2 separate regions of the Homo sapiens genome follow, and region 1 is linked to region 2. The links come from fine-mapping of genetic effects on gene expression. A gene starts in region 2. The other region holds a variant in brackets. All regions are shown on one strand. Distances are between the middles of the regions.

The links. PIP is the estimated chance that this variant, and not a neighbour inherited with it, causes the effect.
Region 1: its variant is fine-mapped to the expression of BAAT in prefrontal cortex (BrainSeq, PIP 0.95).

The regions. Positions count from the first base shown.
Region 1 is chr9:101,340,280-101,356,932 of GRCh38, forward strand. It overlaps the pseudogene TRMT112P4. Among named protein-coding and RNA genes, the nearest start is that of BAAT, 36 kb to the right of the region's middle. RefSeq lists an enhancer at 14,248-14,542. The variant C/G (reference allele first, on the strand shown) is at 8,557.
Region 2 is chr9:101,381,403-101,394,622 of GRCh38, forward strand. BAAT (bile acid-CoA:amino acid N-acyltransferase) reads right to left here and starts at 3,604. Exons shown (of 4, transcript NM_001701.4): 1 at 3,453-3,604. MRPL50 (mitochondrial ribosomal protein L50) reads right to left here. Exons shown (of 2, transcript NM_019051.3): 2 at 6,231-9,448. The coding sequence ends at 9,064.

The DNA.
Region 1 (16,653 bases), 39 kb before region 2:
AACCTGGAACATGAAAAGAAGGGCATTTTGTGGGTTGTAAGTTTGGTGCCAATCTACTGATAGCCAAAGGAAAAAGGGCTGCCTGGTCAGTTATGTTGTTCTAACTATTCTCAAAGAAAAAATTATCAGTTCCTTAGGGGAAAGGAAAAAGTGAGGCCCTTCCCAAAAAGATCTTTAGCTCTAAAAGATATTTCTCACATGAGACTTTGGCATATACATCTGAACCATTTTTCAACAATATCTTCACAGAAATAGCAGTAATAGGTGTCCCCCTAAAAGCTTGACTCTCCAAGGGGTCCTTAATTTTATTTAGGGGATAATTCAAAATAAAGGCTTTGGGGTTTGTATTTGGGTGCAGAAAAACTTCTGTGGAAATAAATAGGCTCCAGTAGTGCAGGTGGAGGAAAAGAGCAATTGATGCCTGTCTTAGTTTGTTGTGTATGCTATCAGGGAATACTTGAGGCTGGGTAATTTATAAAGAAAAGAGGTTTACTTGGGGCTTATGATTCTGCAGGCTGTACAAGAAGCATGGCTCCAGCATCTGCTCTTGATGTGGGCTTCAGGCGGCTTCCACTCATGGTAGAAGGAGAAGGGGAGCCGTCATGTACAGCCATCACATGAGAGGAGAGGAAGCAAGAGAAAGAGGGCAGGAAGATGCCAGGCTCTTGCTAACAACCAGCTCTCAGAGGAACTAAGAGTGGGAGAATGCACTCATTACCACAAGGACCTCAACAAAACATTCAGGAGAGATTTGCCCCCATGACCCAAATACCTCCCAAGAGGCCTCACCTCCAAGAGTAGGGATCAAATTCAACGTGAGATTTGGAGGGGTCAAACATCCCAACTACAGCAATGCCCAATTCTCTACTGTAGATAAGAGATTAGTCATCAGAGGTAGAAGAGGATCAAGGGGAAAACGTCTTTTTGCATTTACTTTTAAAAAGTGATTTTCTGCAAAGTACACACTCCCACCTGATAAACTCATTAACAAACAGCACTACTGGCCATTTTACACACACTTAAATTCATGGTCAATACATTAATTTTGAATAAATAGAATGATTATGAATATATTTTCTCAATATTGGGAAAGTTCTTGACGGAATGTGGCATCATTTCCAACTTCATGAGTCTTTCATTCATGTTAGGGAGATGGGACATGTAATATTAAAAAGAGTGTCTGGTGTCCCCTGCAACATTTCAATGTTCTCTAGGTATTAATATTTTCTGATATGATTCCTTCCTGTAAGCCTCTGTATCTGCTGTCCTCTTTGTCCCCCAAAAAGATATCTTTAAGAAGACATCATTGATTCTTCCTCTCCTTGCTATTATTCTCCTTCTCTAAACTTCTGTACAATGCATTAGCCCAATACAGCTTTTATTTTTATAGTTAATTATTTTAATTGCTTACTATAACCACTCTTCAGCATGCATCCTGTATCTAGTTTTATCCTCCCAAATGAGCCTCTCAAGGGTAGTAACTGTGTATGAAAACTTTAGGGATCCTTTCAACATTGATATAATAAATTATACAATGTACATGTTTAGGAGTTATAAGGTTTATAAGGGGCAGAATAAATTAGCACCAAAAATGTAATGGAAATAAATATTATATAGTACATGTGTGATTGAAGATTTGAGGCTTTCTTCCCAACTTGTAGTTCCTTTTTATCTGAGAATAGTCTCCTAAAGCCCAGAGCTATGATCACTCAAGAGCTATGTATGTACCTTGTGGCATCAGCCCTGGTGCCATTGCTGATTGGATTAGAGCTGAATTTCAGATTCAAGATGTGGCAATGATGTTTTCACCTTGTTAGCTTAGAATTGAGACCCAGAGATCAATAGTCACTCTCTCAGGGTCAAGACTAAGGTGAGGCAAGAGAGGCACCTAGAGGACCAAAGTTTACTTTCATGTCACTGAGAGACCAAGCCTCTAAGGTCTTCCTGATATTTTGCACCCTTGAACCTCTCTTTCCTTACCCTGGCCCTGGACTCACATGTAATTGAATCCATAAAATTCAGAAGCTGAAGCTGTATCCAGATAATCCCAGAAAATCAGTCTTAGGGAAAAGATGTGGGAGTTTGAGGGGAGGGGGAGAGGGAGAGGAGGGGAAGGGGGGGAAGGGGAGGGGGAGGGAGAGATGGGGAGGGGAAGAGGGAAGGGGAGGGGGAAGAGGAAGGGGACGGGGAGAGGGGGGGAACGGGGGAGACGGGGACAGGGAGAGGGGGAGGGGGAGATGGGGGGGAGAGTGGGAGGGGGAGGGGGAAGGGGAATGGGAGGGAGAGATGGGGAGGAGGAGGGGGAGATGGGGAGGGGCAGGGGGAGGGGGAGGGGGAGATGGGGACCAGGAGAGGGGGAAGGAGAGAGGGGGAGAGAGAAGTTATGAATGAATAAAGTAGATATAAAGATGAAAGGCAGAGAAAGTAATCTTACTAGATTTCAAATTCCTGGTTCCAACCACTCCTGAAGGTCAACTGTACTTGAGTTCTTTGAGACACTCTGGCATCCTTATAATAGAATCCCTTTGTTTACATTAGCTTGAGTTGATAACTATTACTTGCAATCAAAGAGTCAACTAGTTCAACTTTGCATTTCACAAACTCGGGATGATTGACTTCTGTAAGGTCATATCATGGTCAAGAGAGAAAAGGTGCCAAGTTTCCTGACTTAGTTGCATGCTTTTTTTTTACTGGCCAACAGACTATGATTCAAACTTTGGGAAAGCATATGACTTTTACTTTTTCTAAAAAGTTCTACTGAGTGAGAAATTCCTCTAGGATATCCCAACAGTCTGGGGTTTCCTTTTGGTCATATATGAGAGTCTACCAACAGAGAAAATCCCAGCATCAAACTCCTTCCTAAAACCAGGCTGGCTATGCCCCTAGACTATGTGATGGAATCAATCTCACCCTGTTATATGAAGGTCTGGTATCCCACATCACTCACCACCTCTCTGTGTTGTCTCTGCTACTCTATATTAGTGAAGGCTACTAATGTCAAGGTACAGAAATCTCCAAATTTTGAGGCCCCTAGTCCCAAAAAGAGATCTTTCAATATAATCCCACTTAACCTTTACCAACAGAAATATATCTAACCCGGAAAAAATGATCTTGTTATCTAAACTGAAAAAACATATTATACATTTTCGTGTATAGATTCCTTTCTGGTGAATTGATAGCATCAGCACACTGTAAACTAAGGAGAGCAGTTGTAGGATTTATTAGTTTAGCTACAGAAAAATCAGTCTTTTCCCATGAGTGTGGGTACTTTTTTATTCTCAGCCCACTACTATCAATTCTCCTTAAAGCTGGGGTATTTGTTTGTAGACACCTGATTTTCAGTCTGTAAGAAACACAATGATTCCATCATGTTTCTGTCCTTGAATCACTTGTTGAATTGTATGTTAGGACAGTGACTGTCTTTAGGACTCCGAGCATGCACATTAAACAGCCACGAGACATACAGTCTGTATCAGTCTTTTCTCACGTTGCTGATAAAGACATACTTGAGACTGGGCAATTCTATTCTCCCCTTAATTTATTTTTCTCTAACAGCAATTATTAAGCATTTACTAAAAGCTAGCTACTGGATAATATTAATTCCCATAGTAAAGCTTTTTCACTTTTCAAGGCTCTTTCAAGGTCATTATTCCCTGTGGGAATGACAACCCTGTAGGAATAAAAACATATTACTATGCTTACATTACAAATTAGGAAATAGAGCTCAGTGAGTTAAATGATTTAGCCAAGTTTGCCTATGTAGTCAATGGTGAAGCAAGAATCTTAACTCATACCAGGTGACCCAACACATAAACCTTAACTATTTTCCCCAAATGAGAGTAGAAATATGAAAACTCACTCTTCTCTTAACCTACCCCTCCTTTTTTTCTTTCTCAATACTTTATTTTTAATTTCATCTTCATTTTTCCTGACTCTGAACCTTTTAGTTAAGTATACACCCTGTTGCATACTTTGGCAGGACAGATAGTGAAATAGTAGAATTATAGCCCACAAACTCATGCGTGCACAAATGTATTTTTTTCTATTTTTCTAGATTCCAAGTAAATTCCATTTTAAGTATTTGTTCTAAGATTATATCTCTGCCACCTGGAGGAACAAAGACTCAAAATAGAAATTACTTGGAATCCAAGTAAGTTTTCTGTGACTTCTATAATGCTGAAAGACTCGGGAAGCTTATATATTATTGTGCATTCTTCTGAACCTGCTGTACAATGTATGCCAGAGGCTCCAAATTCAGATACCCATGGGGACCCAAGCAGGTAATATAAATTTATAGATAAGGGCCAGGAATAAATGAGATACAGAACTGTAAAGAACTAAAGACAACCTAGTCTTTAGCCCAGTCTAAAGGTATTCAGTGGGCAACAAAACAAGATATGAACCAAACAAAACATACTCATTTATGACTTCTGGAGTGCATATCAGCCATTAGGATTTTTATAACTCAAAAACCAAAAGAAGATTTTTTCCCTCTTTCTGATGTGTTACCTTTTTTTAAGGCAATGGATATCAACTGGCCTCCTTTAGGTAGAAGAAGGATGACAAAGTAAAGTGGAAATGCCAAAATGAGGGGATGAGAAGTGGGAAGTGAGAACCCATCTATTAATATGTCCAATGATAAAGAATGAGTTGAGCCGGGCGCGGTGGCTCATGCCTGTAATCCCAGCACTTTTAGAGGCCGAGGCAGGCAAATCACGAGGTCTGGAGTTCGAGACCAGCCTGGACAATATGGTGAAACCTCATCTCTTCTAAAAATACAAAAATTAGCCGGGTGTGGTGGCATGCACCTGTAGTCCCAGCTACTCAGGAGGCTGAGGCAGAAGAATCACTTGAACCCGGGAGGTGGAGGTTGCAGTGAGCCAAGATCACGCCACTACACTCCAGCCTGGGTGACAGAGCAAGACGCTGTCTCATAAAAAAAATAAAAAAAGAACAAGTTGACACTGGCTGGCCTCAAAATCCAAAGCCTTCAAACCTTCTCCTTGCCATCTCTCCCCATGCTTAATCTATATGACTTTTTCCTACTTTTCTATTACATTTGTATTACCTTATTCTCAGTTGGATCCCAACTAATCCATATACATGGATTCATACCCTTGTTAGTTGATAAGGCTTATTGCTTCTCAGAGCTAGCTCCTCATAGATTCCAGAGTGTTAATTTATAAGATCCTTAAGGCTTCTCCTGTCCAACACTTCATTGTCATAATCATCAATAAACTACCTACTGTATAAGGGACACCCATCTGAAGAGGTCTCTCCTTCCTCTGGGCCCTCCAGCATGCCTCTCAAAGCACTTAATATATTGAGCCTTATAATCATTTATGTTGTGTTTTCTCTCTCCTATTAATCTGAAATTTTCTTGAGGGCAGAATTCTGTTTGATTTATTTGTCACCTTTACTGTATACAGAGCCCTTCACATACCATGTGTTCATAAATGATTTTAACTGTACACTCTTCATTCCCACAAACTCTCGTCCTTTTTCCCAAATCTTTCTTCCTTTTTACAGTTTTTTTTTTTTAGTCTCTACAATATTGTCAGACTGATCTCTGCAAAACTCAAAAGTCAAATTACTCTTCTACTTTAAACTTCCAGTAGCTCCCGGATTCATTTAAGGGTAGAATCTAAATCCTTTGGCATAGCACTTAAGACCATTTCCAAGGGAGTGGCTCTACCATGGAGCCCTAGAGACTCTACATGTGTCTACATGGGATGCACAGGCAAAGCTTGGACTGCCATATGACCTAAATCTGGGTGGAATGCCCTGTGATCCTCCTAGGAACATGGCAAGGGAGGAAATCTTCAGAGAAGGCTTCGCGAGGTTGTTTTCTCATCTGCCTCTATCTTGTGGGATGCTGCCATGAGGCGGTTTTCTGATATAACTCCCAGGTTCCAGAGGAACATGAGACTTCCAACTTAACCCCTATGCTTCCGTAGGGCAGAACTGCAGCTCTATAGCCATTTAGCTGCAGTCTGGAATTGACTGGCCAGCAATAGGGTGTATCACAACTCTTGCTGAAGCCATCTGACCCCTTTTGTTTCAGTGCCATCCTTTTGGTGTGTGGGATGAGGACTCATAGGGCTGACATCTTTAGCTTCTCTTTTCTTCACTATGTATATAAGTAATAATCTGGCTGAATCTAAAATTAGTTCATTATTTCTTTACCAGCTGAATCTGTAAGTGTTAGACTTGGACGGTCCTTTGTGTTTGGCACCTTTCATAATCTGATTCAATCAAAGCCTTTAACCCTGATCTATTTACTAGTCTAAACAACTATCTCATTACAAACTTAACATATGATATTGTGAAAGTCTGCTTCTTTATCTGACTATCCATTTTCTGCTCTATACAAATACAGTAGTCACTAGCCATACATAGCTAATTAAATGTAATTAATTAAAAATAAATAAAACAAAAATCTAGTTCCTCAGCCACACTAACCACAATTTAATTGCTCAATAATCACATGTAACTAGTGGCTACTATATTGAACAATGTAGATACGGAACATTTCTGCCATTGGAGAATATTCTATTTGATAGCACTATTCCAGATTGTAAATTCCTCAAGGACAGAAATTCTACCCTGTTCAACACTGTGTTCTTCAGTTCTTAGAATAGGGCATGACACATATTTACTAAGCAAGTGGCTGCTTAATAAATATTTGATGAATACATGAAAGAATAAATGATATGCATAAAAGAAAAAAATTGAGTAAAATTTCTGAGAGACGATGAATAAGAAAGAATAGAAGCCAACTTGACTGTTTATATTCTACTTCTGAAGATGGGAGATGCTTCAAGATCTGATTGAATATATTTTCCCAGCTTCCCCACTTTTTTGCACTGGAAGCCAGGACTCCTCACACTGCAGGGTATTCAGGAAACAAAGGATACAAAGCAGTGGAGAACAAGCAGCATTAACCTTGCTGCCTTCCACAGGATTCGCCTTGAAGTGGTTGGGGAGGGAGCCCTTAGCAATATGGAGACAGCCTTATTGGAGGCTGAACATGAAAGCAATGTTATGGAGTCTGGAGGTCCCTGACCACAGTAAAAGGGATCAAGTCTACATCACTGGGAGACAGTGGCCTATTAGAAGAAAGAGAAGTCAAAAACTGGTAGAGCGCCAAAAAGAGGGGCAGAAAACAAAGAATAAAAGAACAGAAGGTCACCAATGCAGATTAAAATTACTAATCAAGAAACAAAACTCTTGTTTTCTTTAGGAGCCTGTTGCTTTTGTCATCACTGGCACTTCATCTCTCAGTCCAGGTAGAAATACCGCCCCCAGCTTACCTCCCCCTACTCCCGTGCACTAAATCGCAGGAAAAGTGTTTTGAAAGTCAAGAAACAATCTCTATAAAATTCTTATTAGCTGGACCCTTACTACTCTGGAAGCCCAGCTGTGCATGTTGCCTCCAAAATAGTCATCCAGCAATCTCTTAGTTAGGTTGATGCATCTGACAAAAATCTGTATTTCAGAGCAATGAACCACCTGAGATGATGATTACTCGTCCCTCAGAGAACTGTGTTTTCCTCTGGGATGACAGAAACAAACACAGCAAGATGAAAGCAGCCTTTCCAGATGCCCTGCAGGCAGATGTATCAGAAAGCAGACCCTCTCTACAAAGCAATGACATCCCTGACTCCCCAGATACTCACCGTGAGTTCAGCTGCAGGAGGCAGACTAAAGCAGAATGGCTCACTGAACTTAGAAGCCAACTTAGAAGCACTGGATGCTTGCCTGTTGCTTGCTAATTTATATCATTTAAAACAACCCAGCCTATTGAAAGTTGAAATTGTCTGCACAGAAACCATCCACTACTCCTGTTTTTAAGTCCCCAGCGACAGGGCTACCAGCAGATGCTGCCGAAGGGTCTGGGCAGAGCCCAGTCTCTCTAGTCTGCTTTTTAGTTCAGGTGTTCACAATGGAGTCTAATATTTCATCACATAGCTCAGGTTTCTAAGCCTTTTCTCTTGACTCACTCAACTCCTGGTTCTAATCTCCTTCGCTTTAGTTCCTTCTGTGTCTCCTCCTCTAAGTCAGTGGTCTCTGGACAGTTTCCTCTGGAACAGTGTCTAAGAGAGCAAGTCCCAAATATCAATTTTAAGAGCAATGTGAGCTGGTGGCATAAGACTCACCTGAGGAGCCTGTTAAGTAAAGATTCCTGGGTCCTGCACCTGAAAGTTCTGACTTGATAGGTCTGAGATAAGGTTCTTGCATATGTATTTTTAACAGGGATTTCTAATGTGTATCCTAATCTGGAAACCACTTTTCCAAAGGACAGCAAAAGCTTACCCAGACAAAAATGCTACCCAGAACTGGAACTACTGAAATTTTCATTGTCCCATTGTTAATCCCATCAGCCAAAGGCCATTGTCAAAATGTATAAATGAGCTAACTTACAGATTGTAGACTCTGCTTTAGGCTGTGAATTCCTTAAGGGAGGGGCCTTGCCTTTTTGTTTTTGTATCTCTTGCAGCCAGTAAGCTATAGTTGGAAGATCACTGGTCTCTGGACTCAGATTTAGATTAGATC[C/G]CTTACTTCATTACTCTGTGCGACTTACATCAAACAAATTACTTAACTTTCCATGTGCTTCAGCCTTCTAATTTGTAAAATGGGAGTAATATGATAAAATGGAATAAAAGTGAAACATAAGACTTGGAAAAAAGCGGTTGATCTTGGAACTCAAAGACATATTGGGATGTCTAGAAGAAGAGGGAGGTATTTTGGTACACAGTTCTCATACTGGATGAGAGGTACATTGATGAGATAGCAAGGACCCCATATTCATGACTAATTTCCAGAACCAGATACAAACATAGGAGGTAAAGTGGAGGAGAGGTGCAGCAGAAATAGAAAGTGTTGTTTTTACTAAGAATCTATGAGAAACACAGAAAAAGGTAGGCAAGTCATGATGACCCAGGTGGCAAAGCGAAGTACAAGCTAAGAAGTACATCCAGGCCTTCTCCACCCTGCTCCCCAGAACAGGGAACATGGTACTCCATAGACCATCAAGGGATATAGCCAATGAGAATTTAGGACACTGGCAAAGCACTGGACGTAAGGTGTTCACCATATACAAGGGAGGTATTCGCAGTTGTCAGTAGTAGGTATGAGCCACACACACACACACCAAAAGTGAGAGGACATTCCTCAACTTTGGTCATATCACTGAAGAAGGCCTGGAGCAAGCAGAGCTAGAAAAAGAAAAAATGAATGGTCAGCGTCACAGGGAAGCAGATAGAACTTATTGATTAACACATGAGACATCCCTAAGGATACCCTACAAATAACTGTCAGGGGTGTTTTCAGGAGAAAATATTTTCCACATTCTCCAGAAGGATCAGGAACTGTAAAATAGAGGTTAAGGTATAAAGTAGTTGACATATTTTAGAGCTTAATGACTGTTACTTGATTTTCCTTGCAAACAATTGAAGAAGAATTTAGAGTGCCTGGATACCCTAACATTGACAAATTATTTTAAATAAACCTCTGTTTTATTTGGTGTATTTGTATTATTCCATTTGGAAAAATTATAGGAAAACTTAAAATATGACACAGCTATATATGTGCATATTTGCTTAACTAAAATATATGCACATGCAAACTGAAGAAAAACACATATGGCCATCCAGATGACATAATCAAGCATACTTGTAATCATTAGCAGCCATCCTTAACTATTGTGAGATATAGTTCCTGATAGTAACCAAGATGACTGTGAATTTGCCACCATCCATATCCATAATGGCAATCACATAGCTATTATGGTATCAGTTCCATATTCATTCAACAATAATTCATTAAGTTCCCATTATGTCCAAGGATGTTTGAATTAACCAGGACCCTGTCCCTGCTCAAGAAATTCGTAGACTAGTTCAGGGGTTGGCAAACTACAGTCTGCAGACAAAATCCAGTCTCTATCTGTTTTAATAGATAAAGTTTTTGTTTATGTGCTATTTACAGCTCCTTTCACTTTACAATGGCAGTCGATGATTGCCATAGAGACCATATATTTTGGAGCATTTCAGATTTCAGATTTCAGATTTTCAGATTAGGGATCAGCCTGCATAAATAGTTTCAGTTTCTTTGGAAAACCCTGACTAATACAGCCTATGATCCTAAAATATTTACTTTCTACCCCTTTATAGCAAAAGTTTGCTGACCCCTGGTGTAGCTGAAAAGATAGAAAAAGTAAACAGGCAATTCTAATGGAATGTGGTAAGTGCACTTCCAAAAATAAAATCCTAGGAATACTCAGAAGGGGCACCTAACACATAGCAGGAAAGATTCCTGGAAGTGGTACCTATGAGTGGAGCTTGACACCTGGGTAAGGACTCACTGGATAAAGAAGTATAGAAGTGCCTTCTAGAAAGAAGGACAAGTTTATTTATAGATATATCCCCTTTGTGGGACTGCAATATAATAAAAGCTTCATGAGGGCAGGCATTTTTTTTTTACTGTTTTATTCCTTAAAGTATCCAATCACCTGGAACTATTCCTGGCTCATTGAGGGTGCTCAATAAATATGCACTGAATGAATTCAAAACATTCAAATGGCTGGAGTACTGGGAAGATGAGTTTGGAAGGAAGAAAGTTATATAATCAAGCCAAACAACAAAGTGAGGCCTCAGAAATCATATGCTAGTTTTTGAACATTGATCAGTATTTACATCACTAATGACAGATTAGTTTGGACTTAGAAAACAGTCCTTATCTGCTGGATTCTGGCCTCCAAACCCAGTGATTATTACTTGAGGGATTTTAGAGGTTGAGTTGGGAGGGGATTAATGGAGACTGGGAAATTTATGAATTTTCTCTTTGGAATGTACTTTGAGACTAGTGCCCAAATCTATAGAAAGGGGAAAGTTTTTGAAATGACAATTATTTTTAACTCAAGCCTGTATCCACTAATGCATCATCTTTTTTATTTACTTGGATGCAGTAGCTGTGACTAGGGGGTTTAGAGCCAACAGTTTTAATTAGAATGAAATAATGAAACATTGTCCCTATCTTACCTCATTTGCCAATGGCTGATTGACAAACCTAAGAAATGTTATGAATAGCATGCTCATGGAGGAAATAACTGGCTAGTTTTAAATATGTCAGTATGAAAATACTACTTTAAATGAGAGATTTCAATTGTATAGTGAAGGAAAAAATGATTTCTGGCTAAGGCATAAGTAAGCTCTATGTTTTACCCTCATTTGGTCACAATGTAGATTGGTCTTCAATAACACTTATCAATGATTATTCACAACTAAAATTAATCTTCCAGTTATCCTAGAATATTATTTTTCATTTTTGAATCCCAGGAAGTATTTCAGGACTCTTGTTATAACCTACCACACTGAACTGCTCCTGACTACCTGCCATGCTTAGCAAAAAGGTCTTCTTTTTCCTAACATAAATTTTAGTATCAAATTAATTTATACCATGTGTCATGTAACATCTCTTATCAGGGAAATTTTACTTTATAGATTGCAATCTTGGAAGTATATTATTGTGCCCATTATAATCTTTTAAAGTATCTTTTTAAAAAATCTAGAATTACTGACAAAAAGGTTAAAATTTAGGAACATCTGATTGCTTAAGTCATGGATAAGGAGAGGGGAAATGGTAGCAAAAATAAATGATTTTGCAATGAAGCCTATTCTTTTTTTTTTTTTTTTTTTTTTTTTTTTTTGAGGTGGAGTCTCGCTCTGTCACCCAGGCTGGAGTGCAGTGGCGCCACCTCAGTTCACGGCAAGCTCTGCCTCTGGGGTTCACACCATTCTTCTGCCTCAGCCTCCTGAGTAGCTGGGACTACAGGCACCTGCTACCATGCCCAGCTAATTTTTTGTATTTTTAATAAAGACGTGGTTTCACCGTGTTGGCCAGGATGGTCTCGATCTGCTGACCTCGTGATCCGCCCGCCTTGGTCTCCCAAAGTGCTGGGATTACAGGCATGAGCCACTATGCCTGGCCACAATGAAGACTATTCTGATGGTTTAAAGTCACCAGGTATACTTAGGGATTCCATGAAGTTTCCACATAGCTACAGCACAATCAATGGAAACTATGACTCTTTTTGTGATAGATCCAAGAATGTTCCTAGTCATTAATGGAACCTAAAAAATGTTCTCCATAAGAAGGGTAAATATAGAAATTGAAGTGTTTCTAGCTGTCCTAAGATAAAAACAATGACGGTGTATGACCAAAATTTATTTCAAATTTCCAGAGAACAGAGTTTAATAGACTATGGGAGAAAATCTCAATATAATGGAATGGAGAAAATATAGGGATAAATCCCCGAATTCTAATCCCAGTCCTGCCATTAAATTAATTGCAAAAAAAAAAAAAAATTCAAGGCTCTGTTACTTACCTATGTAATGAGAAGGCTGGCTCTAAACAATATTCAAAAAAGTTACTCGTTAGGTAGCTATTGTATTTTCCTCTAATTTGGTCTTGAGGTCTCTCTCAGGAACATGGGTAAAAAATCTTGCCCTACCCTGCCAGGGCTCCAGGGATTTGGGCATGAATGTTTATAGTGTGTCTTTCATGGGACACTTCTGTATCAGCAGACAGCCTAATGCCTGGGTGTCCAACCCACGACAGGGTGTTCCTCTCACAGAAAACTTGTTTATACTGGGAGATGCCTTTGGGGCTCTTGTCTGACCTGTGTCCAGTTTATTCCTACCAAGACAGCCCCTCTCTAGGACAGCCCTGATGGAGAAAGAAGGTAGAAGGTAGATTTGGGTGTGTTGGTCAGGTGAGACACAGAAGAGGCAACTTAGCAAAACACACGAAATAACAGAAGAGCGTATTACTTACAGATCAGAGAACAGAGGGAAAGAGCACCAACGGGAAGGGGAGAGCTTTCCAGGATATGCACTCAACCAGCATGTGGGGAGCAAGAGAGAGAGAGGGACCTTTGGTCCAAAGCCTTTATTGGGGTTCAGGGTGTTACCCAAGCAGGTTTCCCGAGGGGAGTTTTAATTGATGGGTTTAGAACAAGCAGGCAATAGTTCCAAGAGGTCACAGGCAACTGAGAGGTGGTTGCTGAGCATATCTGCACAGTTCGTATGAGGTGTGGGGGTCAGTGGGCAAGTCAAGTAAGTTGTATCTAGCTGTCCCCTAAGGAGGTGGTCACAAAAAGGCATTTGTATAAGCAGATATCTGGATCAGCCACAGTGAGGAAGTTGAAAGAGACAGAGAACTAGAAATTGTTGTCAAGGGTGACTAAGTCCTGCTTCTGGGATGAGAAAGTTCAACTTATACTCAAAGTGGATACATTTGAGTATACATGCATATAAAGGCAATATAAAATTATAAGAATTCACTATAGTAGCATCTTTTTAATTTTTGCCATATCTGGCTACTCCCTGACCTATTACTTGTAAGGCAAGAATAATATTTAATAATATCTCTCAATGCATTTACAATTCTCAGCAATCATTTTATTGTTCTTCTGAAGCTTTATTACATTAAGGCAAAGACCTGGGACTTATTGTCCTAGGGAAGAAGGCAACCCTGCCTAGAAAGGTCTAGGCCTTGACCAAAGGTGGGAATGGATTATGAAAAACTGAAAATCCCGGAGGAACCTTTTGTTCTATTTCCTGTTTGGAGTTCTGGAAAACACAGTAAAATGGGACATTGTGTGTTTAGACAAATAGAGATTCAAAGATAGCACACGCAAGTCTCTTTTTGCTCTCCTGTTCTGTGAAAGGTTTCTGGAAGTTTCCATATTCTCATAGTGATGGGCTTGGAAGGCAGCTGAGAGTTGAAGGCCAGTAAGTCTCACCTGAAAACATTATGGCAATGGGTGATCTAGGATCACGTAACTGTCCTTGGCTGCTTTATTTATAAGGAAATAACATAGATTCAGTAATTTATAAGTAATAGAAATTTATTTCTCACAGTTCTGAATACTGAGAAATTCAAGATCAAGGCACTGGCCGGTTTAGTGTCTGATGAGGGTTTGCTCTCTGCTCCACAGATGGCACCTTGTTGCTGCATCCTCACATGGCAGAAGGAGCAAAACCGCTGCCTTCAACCTTTTTAAGGCTGATCCCATTCACGAGAGCAGAGCCTCTGTGATTTAATCACTTCCCAAAAGGTCCCACTTCTTAATACCATTACTTTGGGGGTTAGGTTTCAACATATAAATTGGGGGAAACACCAAAATTCAGACCATAGAGTTCTGCTTCTGGCCGTCCGAAATGTATGTTCTTCTCACATGCAGAATGTATTCATTCCATCCCAGTAGCTCCCCAGGCCTTAACTTGTTCCAGCACCAATTCAAAAGTCTGAGGTCCAAAGTCTCATTTAAATCAAATATGACTGAGACTCAAAGGTGTGACTCATCCTGAGGCAAATTCCCCTTCAGCTGTGAGCCTCTGAAATCAAACAAGTTACATGCTTTGAAAATACAATGGTGGGATAGGCACAGGGCAGACATTTCCTTTCCAAAAGGTAGAAGTAGGAAGGAAGAAAAAGATAATAAATCCTGACTAACTGTAAAACCCAACAGGGCAAATATTAAGGCTCAAGAATAATCTTCGACTTGACATTTTACCTTCTAAACACTTGGGGGGTGGGGGGTAGTCCTGGCCATGACTTTGCTGGGCAAAACCCATATAGCATTTCTCACATATTGGAGTCACATGCCTATGGCTCTCCCAGGCTGGAATTGCACACTGGTGGCTCTACCAGTCTGGGGTCTTGGGGGTGGCTCTGCTCCCACGGTTTCACTGGGCATTGCCATACTGGGGTGGGGGCTGTCTGTGGTGGTCCTGCTCCTGTGATAGTTCTCTGTCTGGGCTCTGAGGCTTTCTGGGGCATCCTTTGAAATCTAAGTGGAGGCAGGCATGCCCTCATGACTTGTGCACTCTGCACTTTGGTAGAGATAGCACTGCACAGACACCACCAAGATTTACTATATTGCCTTCCAGAGAGTGGCCCAAACTGCACATGGGCCTGCGTGAACCATACCTGGGGCAGGTGAGGAGCATTGCAGCAGAATGCAGGAAGTGGAGATTTGAGGCCACCTGGCGTCAAGGTCCTACCGGTTTCCAAGCTTCCTCTTTTGATACAGATATGTTGCCCCCAGCCTTGGCAGTCTGTGCCTATGATAGGAAGGACAGCACAAATAAACACTGAAAGGCCTTTGGTGTCATTCTTTCATTATCTTGATAAATAGCACCTGATTTCTGCCTCACCGTACTAATCTCCTTATCAAACGGTTACTTAGCCACACCCTTGGTGTTCTCTCTTGAACACAGCTTTCCACTCTATACAATATGACCAGGCTGAGAATTTTCCAAATCTTTAAGTTCTGCTTCCACATTTTATTATAAGTAGTCAAAATCCTCAACATTTTGCTTAGAGATTTCTTCTAGAACATGAACATGATTTGGCCAAGTTCTTTTGCCCCTTTGTAACAGAGATCATCTAGTCCTCAGTTGCCAATAACGTGTCCTTCATTTTTGTCTGAGACTTCATCAGAATGGCCTTTACCATCTGTATTTCTGTATTATCAACATTTTGATCACAACCACTTAGGTAATCTCTAAGAAGATGGAGGCTATTTCTACAGCTTCTTCAACCTCACCTTCTTCTGAACCCTCACCTGAGTTGCCCCTAAGGCTCCTTTCATGGCAGTGGACCTGTAAACTCTTTCCATCCTTTATTTATTATGCAGTTCCAAAGCTGCTTTCCCATTTTTAGGTTTTGTTATTAACACACCCTATCTCTCTGTGCCTATTTCTGTCTTTGTTGGTCTCTGCTGCTATAATGAAATGCCTTAGACGGGGTAATTTACGATAGAAATGTATTTCTCACAGTTCTGGAGCCTGGGAGGTCTAAGATCAAGGAACTAGCAGATATGGTCTCTGGTAAGGGCTACTCTCGGCTCCATAGATAGCATCTTGTTTCTGCATCCTCACATGGTGAAGGCGGCAAGGCACCTCCCTTCAACCTCTTTTTTATTTTTATTTTTTTATTTACTTTTTTTTTGTTTGAAACTTTAATGAGAAAAAACATATACTATCGAGCTCAAGAATATGGTGTGTTTGGTGTGCCATTGGGCCAAGGGTTGGGGATACATGTAGCAGAATTAGGAAACAGGATATACATCAACAAAAATTCACACGATCATGAGAAGGAAAACTGGCACTTGGCACAATCAACTCTCAGTTTCCTCATCATTCAGCAGCATATTGGGAACCCTGCGACTGAGGCAGAACACACGTCTAGACTCTGGGCACTGCAGGGTGCCCTCCAACACATCCACCTCCAGCAGCACATGGTACATCTTCCTCAGAAACTGTTCATCCTCCTCATATCCCTCAACTGGCCCTTTAGGCACCCCAGTCAGGTGCAAGGTATGTATCAGCTGCCTCCAGGAGCACCGGTCACTCCTAGGGTATCATACTGTGCCACTAAGTGAGGGTTGAACTCCAGAGGGCAGATGCAGACCTCAGTGGCCTGGAGGTGCAGGGGGAAGCCACAGGGCCCCACCCCCACACATGCAAGCTCAGCAGATTGTCTTCAACCTCTTTCATAAGGGCACTGATCCCAATGAGGGCTTTGCCCATATGGCTTAATCACTTCCAAAAAGGCCCCACCTCTTAATGTCATCACCTTGGGGAT
Region 2 (13,220 bases):
AGTCCCAGCTGCTTGAGAGGCTGAGGCAGAAGAATTGCTTGAGCCCAAGAGGTCAAGGATGCAGTGAGCTGTGATCATGCCACTGGGTGAAAGAGCTGACTCCACCTTGGGTGAAAGAGCTGAAATCCTATCTCTAAAATAAATACATACATAAAAATAAAAAAGAAGACAGATTGTCAAACTAATTGAAAAAGCAAGTGGTTATTTTTCAGAAACACATTGTCAAAAAAAGACAGATTGAAAGTAAAAGAAAATATATGCAACAGTGTTTGTGTTGCATATATGTGTATATATAGATGAGAGATGAGACAGACACAGACATAAATACATGCTGACAAGAATGAGCCTACAGAGAGAGAAGTCCTGAGAATGATAATTCAGTGGTGAGTAAACATTGAATATGTTTCCTGAGAAGCTTAAAAATAAGTGATACTATAGCTTCCAAGTACCGTATTTCATTTGTTTTCTTGTAATCAAGAAATTGAGTACTTAAGATCATACAGAAATACATGAGAGTCAGAAATGGAATCTACATTTCCAACTCTTAGTCAAATTGATTAGTACTTCAAAAAGAATTTATCAAGAGTCTACATGTCATAGTCACTGACAGATAAGATGCAGTTCCTACTCTAAATAAGCTTAAGGTATAGTATTTCTTCTACATATTGTTACAGTAGGTAGCTAGTCATGCATGAGTGGGGCAGGAGAGGGTTGCCCCCACCCACCAGAATGTCAGGTGACTATCAGGTGATGGTCACTCTGCTTCTCTAAAATAACAATTGGTCACAGCCAGCACCAGGGAGAGGCAGTTTCTCAACTGATAAAAACACCTGAAATTGATAATTGGCAGCTTTCAGGAACTGGGCGAATGAGCTCAAACATGCACATTAAGAGTCAAAATGGCAGAGTATGACCTTCCAGGGGCATTCCACCAGAATTTGAAAGAAAGCCTCAGATAAGCATGCATAAAACTCCAGTAAACACACTGTGCATGCCCACATCCCAAGCACAAGCAGGGCACCATGCATGTGGGTGGCTCCCCATAACCCTTAAGGGAAGGATGAAGGGAAAGGGGTGCAAGATGCCAGAAGTAGGCCAGCATATAAAATCCTAGGTTCAAGGATGAACGAGGCACTTGACCTCCAAGATGCCTGCTTGGGTCTCTCCCAAGTGTGTTTTCCTTTCTTTCCTGTTCTAAAGCTTTTTAATAAACTTCTGCTCCTGCTCTGAAACTTGCCTTGGTCTCTTTTACTGCCTTATGCCCCTCAGTTGAATTCTTTCTTTCGAGGAGGCAAGAAATGAGATTGCTGCAGACCCATACAGATTTGCCACCAGTAACTCAGATATTCACCACCCCTAACAATATTATCCATTCAATTTATTTCTATACAAATATCACATGCATCAACCAGCGTGCCCAAACAGAAATAAGTCAATTAGAAAGTCATTAACTTTAGCTCAAACTTATACTTGCTTTTTTTGGTATTTTTTAACATTACATTTCACTACCAGAAAGCATTCCTGAATTGCATAAATAGGTATAACATATATTCAAAGCTTCAAGAAATATTTTCACAGAATCTAATTCTAACATGGCATTAGTCTTACATTAAAAGAAAATTACCCTTCAAACAAAATATAAATAGGACCACAGTACAGTTTCCCAGAATAGGAGGGCTTATTCTATAAAATTCTAGGCAATAGTCTTTTAAAAGAGGGAGAAATATTGATGGGGATGGGGAAGACAGAATAAAGAAATTTTAACAAATGACTTCTGATAGCCTTTCATTTTCCTCAGAAATATAAATTTCAGCTCAATATCATCATAATAGCAAGTCCCTACTGACATCCTTTCTAAGCAAATCAAAATGAAAAGACACACTTATCTGAGCACTCTGGGCAACTCTACAGCTGAGATTATGAAATGAACAAAAAGACTATTTGTCCTCATGAACTGCTAAAATTCCAAACACTGAGGTAAATAAACTCTGATTTAATTCAAGAGCAGAGATTTTAACTTATTTCCAATCGGCCCAAATAAATAGTCCTGATTAAAATACAAAGTACCTGGATTCTTCCTCTTGAGCCTTCTTTTCCAGCAGTAGAGGGAAAATGACAGACACCCTACCAAAACTTGCCCAGAAGGCCAAAACCTCAAATATGCCTTTGGAAGTATAACAGAGCTAACTTAAGTGCTAGGTCACCACATACCTCTTGCTCTAGTTTCCTATTAATTTTTAACAGTTATTGAACCCAATAAATGTATCACTATTTTCCCTCTTCATTTTCTGTTCTCTCTAAATCCGTCCCTCTTAGGGATTGCCACTACATTTTACTCACATTATTTTAATAATTTTCTTTATAGAAGTTGTTTGACCCCTATTGGCACCATTAGGGCATATTTTTCTTCTGCAATAAAATACTCAAGGTAACTTCTGGAGGGCTCTGCATTTGCAAATGGTTTCTTTCCTGAGACAACAAAAGATGAAAACTACAAATGTGATCACAGTAATGAGTAATAAAATACTCAAGCCCCACTTTCAGAATTTGGGGAGGACCAAATCTCCTACTAATCCTCCTCAACTAATTCACATGGTTTCTTGAAATAGCTACAGAACGGAGTGTTAGTAGGATTTTACATGACAATAAAAGGACTATCTCCATAAAAGTACTGGATCTTTTTTGAGGTGATAGAGCATTTAAAAAGTGCAAACTTAAAGGAAACTTAAATTCAACTTAATTTTAAGGAAGTCTGATCAGCCAAATACTCCATAAAAAACTTGAAAACTATTAAGCTACTACCTTGCAAGACTTATGCTACAGATACAACTGATTAAGAATTATTAACTGGGATACATAAAATATTCCTAAAAAAGTAATGTCTAAAAATCTCAGGTGAATATGAGAAAAAGTCTTAAACAGGTACTTAACAGACAATAGGACACAATCATAAGCTTATGGGAAAAGGCTTAATCTCATTATCAAAGAAATGCAAATTAAAATCATGGTGTGTATTTCATACCTAAAAGGTTGGCAACAATTAAAAATTCCAAAAATAAGAGTTGGTTAGGAAGTGAATCACTCAGACTCAAGCCCTACTAAGGGAATATAAATTGGTACCACCACTTTGGAAAGCAATTGGACATTGTCTAATAAATGTGACAATATGAATAACTTTTGACCCAGCAATTCTTCTTCTAGAGAATAAAAATAAATGAATTACAACTACATGCAATAACCTGGATGAATCTTATAAACATAATGTCGTTAGAAACTAGTCATAAATACACATAAATAAATCTTTCAAATTTGTATTTGCTGAACTAAAACTATAGGCCACATTTTTGGAGTAAATCTTTAAACAAAAGCAAGGAAAGGATTACTGAGAGTCTGGATTGTGGTGAAAAATTACATTAAAAGAATGGAAGTAAGTAAATGAAAAAAATACATACCTAGCAAGAGAACCTGCCCCCAAAATTTCAGCGTAGGTTCTATTTTCCCTAAGTGTCGGCTGGTCTGAGAAATAAAGAGAAAGAGTACAAAGAGAGGAATTTACAGCTGGGCCTCCGGGGGTGATGTCACATATCAGCAGGACCGTGAGGCCCCGAGCCACAAAACCAGCAAGTTTTTATTAAGGATTTCAAAAGGGGAGGGGGTGTATGAACAGGGAGTAGGTCACAAAGATCACATGCTTCAAAGGGCAAAAGGGAGAACAAGATCACATGCTTCTGAGGCCAATAAAGATCACAAGGCAAAGGGCAATGCAAAGATCACAAGGCAAAGGGCAAACTTAGAATTACTGATGAGGGTCTATGTTCCACTGTGCATGTATTGTCTTGATAAACATCTTAAACAACAGAAAACAGGGTTCAAGAGCAGAAAACCGGTCTGACCTCAGATTTACCACAGCAGGATTTTTTCCCCATCCTAATAAGCCTGAGGGTACCGCAGGAGACCAGGGTGTATTTCAGTCCTTATCTCAACTGCGTAAGACAGACACTCCCAGAGTGGCCGTTTATAGACCTCCCCCTGGGAATGCAATTCTTTTCCTAGGGTCTTAATATTTAATATTCCTTGCTACAAGAAGAATTTAGCGATATCTCTCCTACTTACACGTCTGTTTATAAGCTCTCTGCAAGAAGAAAAATATGGCTCTATTCTGCCTGACCCCACAGGCAGTCAGACCTTGTGGTTGTCTTCCCTTGTTCCCTAAAATCACGGTTATTCTTTCTTTTTCAAAGTGCACTGATTTCATATTGTTCAAACACACGTTTTGCAATCAATTTGTACAGTCAGATACAATTACAGTGGTCCTGACGTGACGTACATCCTCAGCTTACCAAGATATGAGGATTAAGAGATTAAAATAAGACAGGCGTAAGAAATTATAAGAGTATTATTTGGGAAGTGATAAATGTCCATGAAATCTTCACAGTTTATGTTCAGAGACTGCAGTAAAGACAGGTGTAAGAAATTATAAAAGTATTAGTTTTGGGAACTGATACATGTCCATATTAAAATGAAATCTTCACAATTCATGTTCCTCTGCCGCGGCTCCAGCCAGTCCCTCCATTTGGGGTCCCTGACTTCCCGCAACACATACTATGCAACAATAAGCATAAGAAACCTAAAGTAGTAATGACTAAGATTATAAAATATATATATATCATATATCTATATGACAAGATCATAAAAACCATAAATCCGAATAATGGATTTCAAGATTTATGTGGCAAAAATTGACAGAATTAAAAGGAGAAATAGGAAAAATAACAATTCCATAACCATGAGTGAAGGTGTTTAAATCCCTTTTAACAATTGGTAGAAAACTTGAAAAAAATCAGTAAAGGCATAGATTTGAACACTATAATGACCTTACCCTAATCGCCTCAACAACTTCAAATGTACACGGCATGTTCAACAAGATAGGCCATAAGTTAGGCCATAAAATCTCGATACATGTAAAAATACTGAAATCATATATCTCAATGAAATTAGAAATTAATAACATTAAGCCATCTAGAAAACTCCCAAATATTTGAAAATCAAACATATTTATGTCATGAGTCAAAAAGAAATCACACTGGAAATTAGGAAATATTTCAAACTGAATGATAAAGGAAGAATAATATAATTTTTAAAATTATAAAATGAAGCCAAAGCTAAAAAATTGATAAGCCACAACCTAGATTGATTAAATAAAAACAAGATAGGACACAAATAACAAATAGCTCAAAATGAAAGTGGGCCTATTATTATAGATCCAACTGACATTAATTAGGGAATATTATGAACAATTTTATGCTAATTAATTTGGTAACTTACATGAAATCAATTACTTGAAAAAATTTATTGAAGAATAAATGAGACCAAGAAACAATAATTAACGACCAACTCAATAAACCAGGATTGGATCCTGGATTGGAAGTGAAATTGCTATAAAGGTCATTACTAGGACATTGGTGAAATTTGAATATGGACAGTATATGATTATTGTTACATCAGTGTTACATAGTTTGAATTTGGTATTTCATGATGGAAAGCAAAACTTTGATGATTGCTCCAGTCTGTTACTGTACAGCTGAGATTAACTTTGGAATTCTATAGGATCAGAGGTTACAGACTATTTTTAAATTTGGAAACTTTTCAAGTAAAAGCTTTAGGATTTTTGCACTGTGTAACAACCTAGTGAAAATTTCAAAGTCCTTGTCACTTTGTGTTTTAGGATTCACAGAATACATGCTAATGGGATTATGAATCAAAGAAGTAGGACCAAATTGTTCATTCTTAGGTTTAGGGTCAAGAAATTTACAGTACAGTATCTTCTACTTCTGAGTAGAAAGATCTATGGCAGACCAATTCTCTAAGAACTAGAAAAGCAGGATTAAAAAGAACAGAAAAGCAAAACACTGGGAAGAATTTAAATATCCAGTTGAATATTGGTTAAATAATTGCATGACATCTAATTATACAATAATATGCTATTAATCAAATTTGTTATTCTTGTCTTTAAAAACATGGGGAAATGCTTATAATGTGAAGGGGAGCATGATGCCATAGTAATTGTAAAATACAGGAAAATAATTGTTTTCATTTGGAAATATACCAAAATGTTAAGTAATTATGAGCGGCAAGATAGTTTTGTTTTTTCATTCTTGTTTTTGCTTTTTTCCTTCCCAATTTTCTAAAAAGAACGTGCTACTTTTGTAATCAGAAAAATGACACGTTAAGAAAGGAGGGAGGAGTTTATTTTATGCAGTTTAAAACATATATTACATATGTAAAACCATTCTATTGAGTCTGAATCTCTATTTTATTAGCAGGCTTTATTTAAGCATACCTACTAAGCTTACAGAAGTTCCATCTAAGTAAAATTAGTTAACTGATACCCTTTTTATGTAGCAATCATTAAATTTTTAAAAATGTAAACCCTTTAAAATTACATCATATGTCTGATTATCTCATTAAACAAGTTAGCAAGCCTAATTTAATCTTTCAGGAAAACTAAAGGCCATTATTCTGATATATTCACTGTATTGAACTATAAACCAGTGATGCCCTCTAGTGGTACTGATGGACGTACAGTTTACCTTCCCTGTTAGGATGTGTTTACCCTCGTCGGCTAAATTTACCAAGACTGTTGTTTCAGGTGGCAGTACTTGTCTCCCACCTCAATACCAGCATCTAGATCCATGTTCTCAAAACATAATCAGCTTTTGAAGCATGCAGAAGCTCAGGACCTACTCCAGACTTACCAAATCAGAATTTGCATTTTTAAAAGATCCCCACATGAAAAAATGAATAAAAGATCCCCAAATGATTAACATGCGCATTAAATTTTGAGAATATTGCTCTAGGCTACAAAGGAGAAATTTCTTCTGTCCTAACGATCACATGAAGCTGCTTGGTTTTTGCAGTTACCACTCCAGTTGTAACTGTTTTTCCACATAGACCTTCTCATCCCTTATTTCCATCTTGCCCTTTGTTTTTCCGTGTCTCTGGATCAGAAGGAAAAATTGTATAGAAAATGAGATAATGAAATCCTGTACATAAAATTCCAATGATTCCATGCTGAATCTTTTACACAGCAGAAGCAGGACATACAGCAGGCCTTCTGTATGTAAACCCTTTAAAATTACATCATATGTTTGATTATCTCATTCAACAACAGCAAGCCTAATTTAATCTTTCAGGAAAACTAAAGGCCATTATTCTGATATAGTCACTGTATTGAGCTATAAACCAGTGATGCCCTCTAGAGGTACTGATGGATGTGCAGTTTACCTTCCCTGTTGGGATGCGTTTACCCTCCTTGTTGGTTAAATTTACCAAGACTGTGTGTTCCCCATCTGTGGATTCAACCAATTGTGGATCAAAAATGTTCGAGGGGAAAAAAAGATGACTGCATCTGTACTGAATATGTATACTTTTTTTCCTTCTCATTATTCCCTAATCAGCATAACAACTATTTACATAGCTATTTACATTGTATTCACTATTTACATAGCTACTTACATTGTATTCACAATTGTGAAAGCTATTTACATTGTATTCACAATTGTGAATACTATTTACATTCACAACTATAACATATAACATATTATTCACAATAGTTATGTTCACAACTATTTACATACTATTCACAATTGTAAATATTATTTTATAGCTATTTACATAGCTACATATTTACATAACTTTAAAATTTACATATTTACATAACTAAATACATTGTATTCACAATTGTAAATACTATTTACATTCTATTCAGTATAAGTAATCTAAAGATGATTTAAAGTATATGGGAGGATGTGCATACATAATATGCAAATACTACATCATTTTATAAAAGGGGCTTGGGCATCTGTGGACTTTGGTATCCAAGTAGGTGTCCTGGAACCAATCCCCAAGGAATCAACTCTAATGTCTAAGCTCCAGAGCTCCAGGCACTCTGACACCTGAAGTTCTTGAATGAAGTGCCTGTGGATGATATTTGTAGGGCATGTCTATACTGTTAACTAATTTTCTTCATGAAGATTCCAGAATTTATATTCCCAACTGAATTTTGCCCTCTTCAAAGGAGTAACCCTGGGAAAGAGAATAAATGCAACTTATTTTGTTAAAAACCCTTCTATCACTTTTCTTTAGGAATTGTCAGCAGTCAGAACAATATAAGACATTCCTTCTGTCTCATTACTCTCCAGCCATATCTAAAGCTTGAAAAAAAAATCCCAAATTTAACACCTTTGTCATTCAGAACCATCTGATAACCTGCTATTTAAGTAATTTCCACAAATTGAGTGCATTAAAGCACAAAGACTTGCCACTCTAGTGAATACTCAGCACCACTTTTTAAAAGTTATAGAGAAAAAGGTTTAAAATAAGCATCATCTCCTCTGAAGAGAATATGCAATTAGACATAGAATCTGGCACATCTCTTATGAGGAAGAGTCACAGCACTCAATATTTGGCATATATTCTAATTTTTTCAAAATTATACTTACTGGAAAGAAATGGCAAGGCAGAGCGCAAGCAAATTTCACTTAAAAAATTTACAACACACAATACACTTTAACAAATCTACTTTAATTCTAAAAGAAATTAATCTAGAACTGTCAGTAATACACAACATACTTTTATGTTTCTTTTATAGGTATCTATCTAATAAAAGTTTATTTGTGTATGTGCAATGCATAACTCTATCTTAGATATGAATCCTAACAGGATGAAAATACTTTCTTGCAACTACTTTATGCTTATGAAAGGTGTGAACTTGCAATGTCCTCCTGTCTTAAACCCAAGTTGACAGTGCCCTCTCAAAACTTTTCATAAATAATGACCTAATTTCATTTAAAAAATGGTTTCAGCAAATATGAAAATAGAAAGTCCGTTATTTGTCCATTTGTAATATGAGAAAAAAAAAGATGATACATTCCTCTACAGAAAAAGTGGGTTTAGAGAACAGTTCTGGTAGTATTTCACATGGTAAAGTATCAAAAGATCTAATGAGCAGCCCCCTTGCTCAGGGAAAGACAGTGATTTCAATGTGTTTCTCTTCCGAATTGCTTAGTAACTCCAAGTGATTTTCAAATTGGGGGGCAGATTACTGGCACTGAGTTCATCAAATTTAGATCTATCTTGAATAGGGACATTATAGAAATCAAGAACATCTCTAACCCTGCACATCTGGTGGAGTCTGGAGTTAGGGACTACATGACCCAAGTCATCAGCTAAATGAGCCAGAAGATTGAACTTTAGACGACTATCTTCCAGGGAGATGTCTTGCCAATTACTAGGAAGAGATGAACCAAAAACTTCTTTAACGTAAGATTCCAAACGACTCTGGAGATCTTCAGGTGGTGTGTATGCTCGGCTTCGTAAAGGTGGACACACTAGGATAGGTTCCTTTTTCTCTTCTACTGTCTCAACAACCACTGGCTCTTTCTCTTTTCTGGAATGATCAAAAACAAACAGACAAATCCATTAATGAAGTTGACAAACACCAGACCAAATCTTGCCTACCAATCAAAATCAACAATGGCATGCTGATTACCACTGGGGACTACTGAGAGTAGGAAAGAATATGGTAGGCCCCTGCCCTTAGAACGTTCATGGTTGAACTGAGTTGGGAGAGACAGAAAGAAACTAAGTACATATTTTACATACTGTAAGAATTCCTAAGAATGGGTGAAGAAGTAAGGTAAATCATTGTCTGGGATTCCCCATCCTCCAAGATCCCACCCCAATCTACCTTTCTGGTCTTACCTTTCACTGATTACCTACATATACTCCATGTGATACTCTATATCCTGTGTCCCAAGCACACTCCCACTTTCCTGACACAATGTGTTGGCTCAAGTCATATCTTAAAATGCCTGTCTTTTATCTTCACCTATGGAAATCTTGCTTATTCTGTAAGTCTTAGGATAAAATTGTTCTCTTCCAAGATGCTTTACCTAATTTCCAGAATCAAATATAATTGTGATTTCATGTGATCTCTTCAGCAGTTTATACTGCTCTCAGAGTGTATCACATCCTACCTGACTTTTAATTTTACTTACATTCTACTTCACAGAAAGTGAAGAGATGGAAAAAGATATTCCATGCAAACAGAAACCAAAAAGAACAGGAGTAGCTATACTTATATCAGATAAAATAAATTTCAAGTCAAAAACTATAAGAGATAAAGAAGGTCATTACATAATCATAATGAGGTCAATTCAGCAAAAGCATATAACAATTATAAATATATATGCAACCAATATTGGAGAACCTAAACACATAACACAAATATTAATAGATCTAAAGGAAGAGATAGACTACAATACATTAATGGTTGTGGATTTCAACACCCACTCTCAATAACAGACAGATCATCCAGACAAAATCAACAAAGAAAGACTGGAATTACATTCTACACCAAATGGACTTGACACTTAGAGAACATTTCACCCAACTGCTGCAGAATACATATTCTTCTCATGAGTACATGGTACATTCTCCAGGGTAGACTGTATCATAGAACACAAAACAAGTTTTAACAAATTCATAAAACTCAAAATCATATCAAGGACTTTTCTAACGACAATGAAATATAACTAGAAATCAATAACAAGAACTCTAGAAACTATACAACTACATAAAAAATAACATGCTCCCAAATGACCAATGAGTCAATGATGAAATTAGGAAGGAAATTTTAAAACGTCTTGAAGCAATAAAAATGAAAACACAACACATCAAAACCTATGCGATACAGCAGAAGCAGTAGTAAGAGGGAAGCTTATAGTAATAAACATCTACATGAAAAAAGAAAAACTTCACATAAACAATCTAAAGATGTACCTTAAATTAGAAAAAGACAAACCAAATCCAAAATTAGTAGAAGGAAAGAAATAAGATCAGTGTAGAAATAAATAAAATAGACTAAAAAAGCAATAAAAAGATCAATGAATTAAAAAGTTGGTTTATTGAAAAGTTAAAATCAACAAACCTTTAGCTAGACTAAAAAAAACAGAGAAGACACAAATACATAAAATCAGAGGCAAAAAAGGAGATATTACACTGATATCACAAAAATTTAAAGGCTAATTAGAGATTGTTACAAGCAACTATAAGTCAATAGATTGGAAAACCTAGAAGAGATGGATTAATTCCTAGACACGGACAACTTACCAGGATTGAATCACGAAGAAAAAGAAAACCCAAACAGAAATAATGAGAAAGAGGCTGTAATAAAAGTCTCCCATCAAAGAAAAGCTTAAGACCTGATGGCTTCACTACTGAACTCTAGCAAGCATTTAAAGAAGAACTAATGCCAATCAATACGAATTCTACCACAGCTATTCCAAAACACTGAAGAGGAGAGAATACTTCCAAACACACTCTACAAGGCCAGCATTACCCTGAGGCCAAAACCAGACAAAGACAAAATAAAAAAGGAAAACACATTCTACAAGACCAGCATTACCCCGATACCAAAATCAGACAAAGACAAAATAAAAAAGGAAAACTACAGTTCAATATTCCTGATGAGCACAGATGCAAAAACCCTCAACAAAACATTAGCAAGCAGAATTAAACCACACATTAAAATGATCATTCACCATGATCAAGTGGGATTCATCCCAGAATGCAAGAATGGTTCAACATATGCAAATCAACAAATTCGATACATCACATTGATAGAATCAAGAACAAGAATCATGTGATCATTTCAATAGATGCTGAAAAAGCATTTCATACATTTCAACATCCTTTCATGATAAAAACTCTCAATAAACTGGATACTGAAGGAACATACCTCAACATAATAAAGGTCATGCATGACAAACCCACCAAACAAGGACACAAAACAAGCTAGCATCATTGAATGGGAAAAAACTCAAAGCCTTTCCTCTAAGATCTTGAACAAGACAAGGATGCTCACTTTCATCACTTGTATTCAACACAGAACTTGAAGTCCTAGCCACAGCAATTAGACAAGAGAAAGAAATAAAGTACATCAAAATTGAAAAGAAGTCAAATTGTTCTTATTTGATATATGATCTTACGTATCATACGTAAGATATATGATCTTATGTATCATACGTAAGATATATGATCTTATATATCTTGTTGATATATGATCTTGTATTTAGAAAAACCTAAATATCCACCAAAAAAACTCTTAGAAATTATAAATTCAGTAAAGTTTCAGAATACAAAAATCAACATACAAAATCAGTAGCATTTCCATATGCCAATAGTAAACAATCTGAAAAAGAAATCAAGAAATCAATTCCATTAACAATAGCCACACACACAAAAAATCTAGGAATAAACTTCAACAAAGAAGTAAAAGGTCTCTACAATAAAAACTATAAAACACTGATGAAAAAAATTGAAGGGGACACACAAAAAATGGAGATATCCCACGTTCATGGATTGGGAGAATTGATGTTGTTGAAATGCTTATGCTACCCAAAGCGATATACTGTCAATGTAATCTTTATCAAAATACCAATGACGTTCTTCACAGAAATAGAAAAAAAAATCCTAAAATTCGTATGAAACCACAAAATGCCTTGAATAGCCAAAGTAATGCTAAGCAAAAAAAAAAAAAAAAAAAAAAGACCACACCTAACTGACCCCACCTTGCTTCTAACCTTTAAGCTGTCCTTGTTCATTCCTGGGCATAGGCCAAACTAACCTTGGGAAGGAAATGAGTTTACAGTTTGACTCTGAAACAAAATTGGTAATAGCCTTTTTCTGAAAAGACCTCCCTCTTGCCTGGGAACCAGTTTGCTTTTGTAGGACTAACAAATTAGCTACAAGATTAGAAATTATGGTTAGGGGTCATTCAGACTCCGGCTGCAAGAGTCTGATCCTCCCCAAATTGCTCCTGGGATAACACTGCTATTGTAAAATTCAAGGTCAGTGCTTGAGATATTTTGCAGACCCTGCACTCAATGGATTAGCTTACACCACCAAAGCCGGTAATCTGGCTCAATCAGTTCTGTGATCCCACCCAGGATCATAAGTTGGCAAGAACTCACTTAGACCCCCTATGATTTCATTTCTAACCCAACCAATCAACACTCCCCATTTCCTAGGCCCCTACCTGCCAAATTATCTTTAAAACCTCCGATTCCCAAGTTTTCGGGGAGACAGATTTGACTAATAATAAAACTCCAGTATCCTCACAGCTGACTCTGCGTGAATTACTCTTTCTCCATTGCAAT